Linked DNA regions of Homo sapiens. The protein of the gene in region 1 purifies or fractionates together with the protein of each later gene. This does not show direct contact. Each region holds a gene or a part of one and is shown on either strand. Other genes may lie near its edges.

Evidence for each region. Proteins that work in one complex are often made in the same cells at the same time.
Region 2: the proteins of OSBPL5 (region 1) and PRR11 purify together in Homo sapiens (co-immunoprecipitation; 3 studies listed by BioGRID and IntAct, with this or other methods). This does not show direct contact.

Annotation. Positions count from the first base shown.
Region 1 is NC_000011.10:3,088,691-3,092,440, forward strand, and holds part of OSBPL5 (oxysterol-binding protein-related protein 5), read right to left. Parts: coding exon 3,742-3,750; intron 2,007-3,741; coding exon 1,868-2,006; intron 1,259-1,867; coding exon 1,156-1,258; intron 1-1,155. UniProt on the Homo sapiens protein: Lipid transporter involved in lipid countertransport between the endoplasmic reticulum and the plasma membrane: specifically exchanges phosphatidylserine with phosphatidylinositol 4-phosphate (PI4P), delivering phosphatidylserine to the plasma membrane in exchange for PI4P, which is degraded by the SAC1/SACM1L phosphatase in the endoplasmic reticulum.
Region 2 is NC_000017.11:59,193,723-59,197,472, forward strand, and holds part of PRR11 (proline-rich protein 11), read left to right. Parts: coding exon 1-12; intron 13-1,034; coding exon 1,035-1,133; intron 1,134-1,608; coding exon 1,609-1,721; intron 1,722-3,750. UniProt on the Homo sapiens protein: Plays a critical role in cell cycle progression.

The DNA.
Region 1 (3,750 bases):
ATAAGACTGTATTTGGAGATGGGGTCCTTAAAGAGGTATTTATTTAAATGGAGACCATTAGGGTGGGCCCTGGTCCCATGGGACTGGTGTCCTTATATGAAGAAGAGATGAAGACACAGACACAGCGAGAAGCTGGCGTCTGCCAGGCAGGAGAGAGGTCTCGGGATAAACCAGCCCTGTGGCACCGAGATCTTGGACTCCAGCCTCCGGGACCGCGAGGGAGTAGACGCGCTGTCCGAGCCCCTTGCCGGCAGTACTCTGCTGTGGAGGCCCTGGCCCTGAGCTGGAGTACTTTGCCGTGGAGGACCTGGCCTCTGAGGCGGTATCCAGTTTGCTGCAGAAGCTTCTGGCTGAGTCCTGGCCACCTGCCTGACAGCTGACCTGCTTCTGGGGAGCCAGGCCTCCCTGCTTCTCTGCCCACACAGCCTCACCAGGGAGCACCTTCTGGAAATGCTTACACAGGGACAATGACAGTTCCCCAAGGCTCTTGAGCCTCACAGAGCCCGGGCCTGTGCCCTGGCTGCATTTCACCCTGGGGTACTGCTATCAAGCCCACTTTACAGAGGGGAGGCTGAGGTGTGACAGCCAAGGTCCCACAGCCAGTGAGACCCTCAGCCTGGCTCAGAGTCAGGAGCTTTGGACCCGAGAGGGACCCTGTGCTCTGCTCCTCATTGGTGGGATCTGCTGACAGGAAGGGGCCATGTGGCCCTGGTGGCCTGCACCTGCCAGCTCTCGGCCACTCCCATTTGCTCCTTCCCCAGCCATTCCTGAGAAGCCACTGTGCGCAGGTATGGGGCCACCACAGTGAGCCCAGGCTGCCACCTCGCTCTGCACACCTCAAGGTCTCTCCTGGGGCTACCCCAGGCCATGCTGGGCTGGCACCTTCCTCTAGGCTTCAGGACATCTCCAGCTCAGTATCTGCCAGGCATGGCCAACTTGGCTGGTTGATCATCCCGCACCACCTGCCGCTCCCACACCCTCTCTCCTGCCCTCGGCGGTTGTCTTCCTTTCATCACCCTGCAGGTCTTGTGGGTTCCAGCTCCGATGACAACCCCAGCCGCGGCCTCCTGGCCTCCCCACCTCCCGCCCTAGCTCTACCAGGTCTCTCGCACTCTCTGACCCGGAGTCTGGATGGACACCCTGAGTGTGGCCCACCTGTGCAGCTCCTGCTGGGCCTCTCGGATGGAGAGGATGGCCTCGTGCAGGGCCTGCAGCCGCCGCGCCTCCTTCCTGCACCGAGGGCATGGGCTCTCACCGCCTGGGACGGCCCCGAGTGAGACAAAGGAGGGGAGGGGAGGAGTGAGGATGAGCTGGAGGTCCAGTGGGGCTGGCACGTGGGTCACAGGGTCATATCCAGCTCGGGCCTCCACCCCACCTCATGGGAAACCTGCAGGGCCAAGCTGAAGACACGGAGATGAGGGAGGGGTGCTGAGGATGTTTCTGGAGGGAACCCCCAGGCTGGACCAGCCACTAACAGGCCTGGGAGGCAGAAGTGGCCAAGGCAAGGCCCATCCATTACAGAGGCAGGGACAAAGTTGGGGAGACACAGCTCCTGGTGACAGGAAAGGAGCAGAGGGCTGGGGCAGGATGCCACTGGACCTGCCCCTCCCACCGCTGGGGAGCCCCTGGCCTGGGCCCACTCCCTTTCTTCCCCACCCCCACCATTCCCCCCGTTGGCCCTTGGGCTGCCTCCCAGACTCTGAGAGGGCAGAGCCTGCTGGGGGGCCCCTCAGGGCAGCAGAGGAGCTTTTGCTGGGAGGTTGCCCTACATCTGGGCAGGTGCTTCTCTGGCCTCCCCTCCAGCCAGGTCAGCATCTGAGGCACCCCACCAGACAGAGGCCTTGGGGCTGGGCCCAAGGGGGCTCACCAGGGACAAAGTCACCATCCTGCTCCTCGTCTGAGAGCTCTGGGCAGGACTCAGGCGTGGATCCGCTGCTCTCCGTGGCCTGGCTGTGGCCGGAGGGCTGGTCGCTGGCCTTGCGAAGCCGCTGGTCTGGGCCAGACCTCTGCAGAGAAATGGAGCTGCTGCAGCTGAAAGCCACCCACGCCCCCTGCCCAGGCCCCAGGGACATGGTGGCATGCTTATGCCAGGACAGTGCTAGAGGTGGCAGCCAGCAGGGAGGGCAGCTGCTGGGCTGTGGAGCTGGCTGGAGGGGTCTGTCTCAGCCCCGGCATGGCCTGGAGTAGCCATGGTCCCTTTGAGCCTGTTTCCTCATGGGTGAGACAGAGCTACTGACCCCTCACAGTGAGCAAGGGCCTGCAAGGTGGTGCAGACACGCCTGCCCTGTGCTCACCATGGCGTTGCATCCAATAAATGCAGAGATGATGGCATGGGGGGCCGAGGGTGGTTCTGACCCCTGAGCCATGAGGACAGATGAAAGCCGAGGCCACTGTGGGAGCTGGGAGGTTCATAGGAACCCCAGATGGCTAGGGTTCCCCATGTCAAGGGGCATCTCCAGGGGGGAACCCCCACACTCAGCCGGCTGCTCACAACCCCAGGAGTGCAGGCAGGGCTCATCCATTCAGCCCTTACTTGAGCTCACAAGGAACCCAGGACAGGAACTGATGCTCAGGGGTGGGGAAAAAGCAGAACCTGGCTGTGGGACCACCATGTAACAACAGGCGTTTGGGGCCAGAGAGGTGCCAGGGACGCTCTGCATTGGGTGTGGTCAGCGACGGGGCAGGTGGGGTCAGAGCCAGGACAGGTGGGGTCAGAGGCGGGGCAGGTGGGTTTGGCCACAAGGTACTCCATGGGATGGTTTTTGAGGCATGGCAGGGCCCAGGCTGACTGACCTCAGCAGGGGCTGCGGGGTGGGAGGCTGCAGAGGGCATTGGGGGTGGACATCTGCTGGAGATTGGTGGGGAGAGGCTGAGGAGCGGGACTGCGAGGGTCTGGGGCCAAGGGAAGGCAGGAGCTAGCAGTCTGGCCTGAGCCCGGGGGGATGGAGACTGTGCTGCAGACATAGGGGGTGCATCTGTCTACCTTCCTGAGGCTTCTTCCCTAGTCCCTTGGCAGGCAGAGCATGGGACATGCAGCCAAGGAGATACCGCGGCCCCCAGCTTGCTGGAGAAGTTAGGGCCATCAGGCAAGCAAGGCCTCTCATCTGAGTCTGGCCCAGACGGCATCAGCTGGGGAACACGCCCCCATCCTGTCCGCTGCGGGTGAGCACCGGCCGCGCTCTGCACCCTCTGCACGCAGTAGGTGCACGGCTGGGGCGGTGCAGCTCAGCACACCTGGAACGGGGGCGTGTGGGTTTGGCGCCACCTGGTGGCCGCCTAAGGCATGGCACCAAGACACACCCAAGGCAGCTTCCTCAGGTTACTCCCTGGAGCCTCCTGCTGTCCCGCTTCCCCTTTCCAGACACAAGATCTGTGCAAGTGCTGGCTCCTCCTCCTCCTACCTGGGAAGGGCCCTGGGCTGCCCTGACCTTCTGTTTCCTGATCAGTGGAATGGGATAATGTGGCTGCTAACTTGGCAGAGGGAGACTTTGGGGGCAGTGGACAGAGACAGTAGACACAGGGTCCCACAAGCCAAGGTGCCCCTAGAACTGAGCATCCTGCAAATCCCGGTTTCCTGAGTCCCATGCTCGGCAGAGAAGGAAAGGGGACGAGGGGGCTGGGGGATGAGGGCGTGAGGGAAACGGAGCGAGGGGAAGGGAGGAGTGAGGTGAGGAGCGAGGGGTGGTGGTGGCCACACGTGCAGCTAAGACCAGCCCTGGGTGGGGCCTGTGGGGTGCTGACCTCGTGCCT
Region 2 (3,750 bases), on another chromosome or scaffold:
AAAGCACTTCAGGTAGGTAACAATCTAGTAATGATATGTTTTGATATGTTTTGGTGAGTGTGTAATATAGGAGTAAAGCCAAGTGGCCTTTTAAGGCCAGGCTAATCAGGGCTTGGGCCAGAAGGCTATATTTTGTTCTGATTCCGTATCTTAATTATTGTGTTTTTAAAATCTCAGTTCCTGAGAAATTCCTAGAAGCTGGATTGAGAAATGAAAGTGATGTGTGTGAAACCCAGTAGAGTGGAAGATTTCTATTCGCTTCTCAGCATGGCTTTTTCCTAGGGAAGAAAACCTCCCTAGGAAACCAAATTTAGAATAGAAGATTGCTTAGAGAGTAAAGTCAGAACAAAGAGTTAGTGGATTCCAAAGTTTCATATCATTAGGCTGGAGAACCAATCTCTATTTCAGTTACTTATTTACCAAGGGGACCAGACAATTTGTGAATCACTAAGACAGGCATGACCCTGTTTTAAAATCTGCTGAATTTTCACTATGGATAATTTGGTTTAATGTAGCTGAATTAAATCCAGAGTCTTCCCAATCCTCACACACACACACACACACACACACACACACACACACAAAACAAAACCTGGAGCCTATTGTTATATTTGCCCTAATTATACCTCTCTGATTGTATACATTCTTGTTCTGTGGAAACTGAGTCATCTTTCTAGGTAATTCAAGCAAAACTTCACTTTAACCCGATTAACTCCTTCAACTCTTGTCTTATTATAATGACTCCCGGGGAAGATGCAATATTGCAGGAAACTAGTCCATCTCTTATTTGTTAGCAAAGTCTTAGCTTATAAAAACAAAATTGCGGGGTGGGGGAAGCCTTACATTTTGATGAATGCTTTTCAATGGGTGATAAAAATACGATTATTCTTGGTTGAGTAGAAAGAATATGACAGGTTCCTAGGGTAGATAAGAGTTACCTCTTAACTCTGAGTCTTTAAAAACTAGATTTGGATTTGCATTTCACCAGTTGTGCTGGTTCCAATTTGAATTCTAACCTTACCATGTATTTTAAGGCTGGACCATTAAAAAAAGATGGACCCATGCAGATAACAGTTAAAGATCTGCTGACTGTAAAATTAAAGAAGACACAGAGTTTAGATGAAAAGAGGAAGGTAAGATGTCATTGACCACATACATGCTCTTTTTGCTTTTAACAATATAGGCTCATGCCTATAATCCCAGCACTTTGGGAGACCAAGGTGGGAGGATCACCTGAGCCCAGGAGTTCAGGACCAGCATGGGGAATATGGCAAGACCTCATCTCAATTTGTATACAATTGGGGTCGGGGGTGCTGGAGGGAGAAGTCATTTCATTTCAAGTTAAGTTTTTGATGTTTTTATTTTAGTAGTTTTGGATTTCCCAACAAAATGTATATATTAGGAAATGATTTAATTAGGCAATTTTATCTCCCAACCCTTAGTCTGAAGAGGTAGAGACATCCTTTGAAGCTCTGGAATAAAAATTGGGTAGCATACTGGATATATCTTACACAAACTCAGCACTCAGATATTTGCCGTTTTTGCATGTTTACATTTTGAGTGATATTTTAAAATTTGTTTTAATAATGTCTCATTTTATAATTAAAGCTTATACCATCGCCGAAAGCACGGAATCCACTAGTTACCGTCTCTGACTTGCAGCATGTTACCCTGAAACCTAACTCCAAAGTGTTATCGACTCGAGTTACAAACGTCTTAATGTAAGGAACTGCACAGTACTATGCTCTACTACTACTTAAAAGAATGATATTGTTGTACAAAGGCCTAAAGAAAAGGAAAAAAAGATTTTTTGTGTGTATTTCTAATGTTAAAAGTTATATATGCTCATTATAGAAAAACTGAAATCTACAGAAAAGTTTAAAAAAGAAAACAAAAATTATCTAAATAATCCTATCACTGGAGATAGCCACTGTTAACATACTGCTGTTTATCATTCTAGTCTTTTTCTGGGCATATGGTTTATTGCCCCATTTAAAGATGCTGTTTATTATAAGATATGGCATTGATTTAATAACAGATTTTGGGAGAAAAAGATATACTATCAAGAATTTTAGGCTGGGAGTGGTGGGTTATGTCTGTAATCCCACCACTTTGGGAAGCTGAAGTAGGAGGATTGCTTGAGGCCGGGAGTTTAAGACCAGCCTGGGCAACATAGTGAGAGCCCCATCTCTAAAAAAAACTAATTAAATTAAAAATTAGCCGGATGCAGTGGTGTGTGCCTGTAGTCCCAGCTACTTGGGAGGCTGAAGAAAGAGGATCACTTGAGCCCAGGAGATCAAGGCTGCAGTAAGAAGTGATTGTGCCACTGTACTCCAGCCTGGACAACAGAGAGAGACTCCATCTCAAAAAAAAAAAAAAAAAAAAAATCATAACCTAAATGTCTTAAAACAGGATTTTATCTATGAAATTTACATACAATTAACTGCATATTTTGAAGATGTCAAAATGACACTTTAAGTTAATTTTCAAAAAGATAGGAAGAGTTCATGATATACTGAATGGGAAAAACTATATCTACAATATGATTATACACAGACAGATACACACATATACCATATTTGCTTGATTCCAAGACACACTAGTTTTCATATTATATAATTTCTGAAAGCAACCTGTTTTATTTATTTATTTTTTGTATTTTTTTATTTTTTGAGATGGAGTCTTGCTCTGTCGCCCAGACTGGAGTGCAGTGATGCAATATCGGCTCACAGCAACCTCCACCTCCCGGGTTCCAGCAATTCTCCTGCTTCAGCCTCCTGAGTAGCAGGGATTACAGGCGTGTGCCACAGTGCTGGCTAATTTTTGTATGTTTTAATAGAGACGGGGTTTCACTATGTTGGCCAGGGTGGTCTCAAACTCCTGACCTCAAATGACCCACCCCCCTCGGCCTCCTAAAGTGCTGGGATTTCAGGGGTGAGCCACTGCGCCTGACTTAGGTTATGACATTTAATTTCTGTAAGTCTTCAGTGGACATCCTTGCCTATCAACTCTGTACATGGCTGAGTTTTTCCCTAGGATGGATTCTTACACATGTAACTCCTGGGTCAAGAAGTATTACATATTGGAATGGCTATATCATCTTATGTTCCCATCGGCATCTACTGCTATTTTTTTTCTTTTTTTCTTTTTTTGAGAAGGAGCTCTGTCACCCAGGCTGGAGTAGTGGCACAAGCTCGGCTCACTACAACCTCCGCCTCCCAGGTTCAAGCAATTCTCTGCCTCAGCCTCCCGAGTAGCTGGGATTACAGGCACCCGCCACCACGCCCAGCTAATTTTCGTATTTTTAGTAGAGATGGGGTTTCACCATCTTGGCCAGGCTGGTCATGAACTCCTGACCTCGTGATCCATCTGCCTCGGCCTCCTAAAGTGCTGGGATCACAGGCGTGAGCCACCGCACCCTGCTTCTACTGCTATTTTTTAATGTAACACATAGAACTACTTTCTAGGATGTTGCCTATAGAAATGATTGCTTTCCTTTGGGAAAAAAATAATAAAATCTGGCAAGTTCTAATTTTTTTTTTTTTTGGAGACAGAGTCTTGCTCTATTGCCCAGGCTGGAGTGCAGTGGTGCAATCTTTGCTCACTGCAAGCTCTGCCTTCCGGGTTCACGCCATTCTTCTGCCTCAGCCTCCCGAGTAGCTGGGACTACAGGCGCCCACCACCACACCTGGCTAATTTTTTGTATTTTTAATAGAGACAAGGTTTCACCGTGTTAGCAAGGATGGTCTT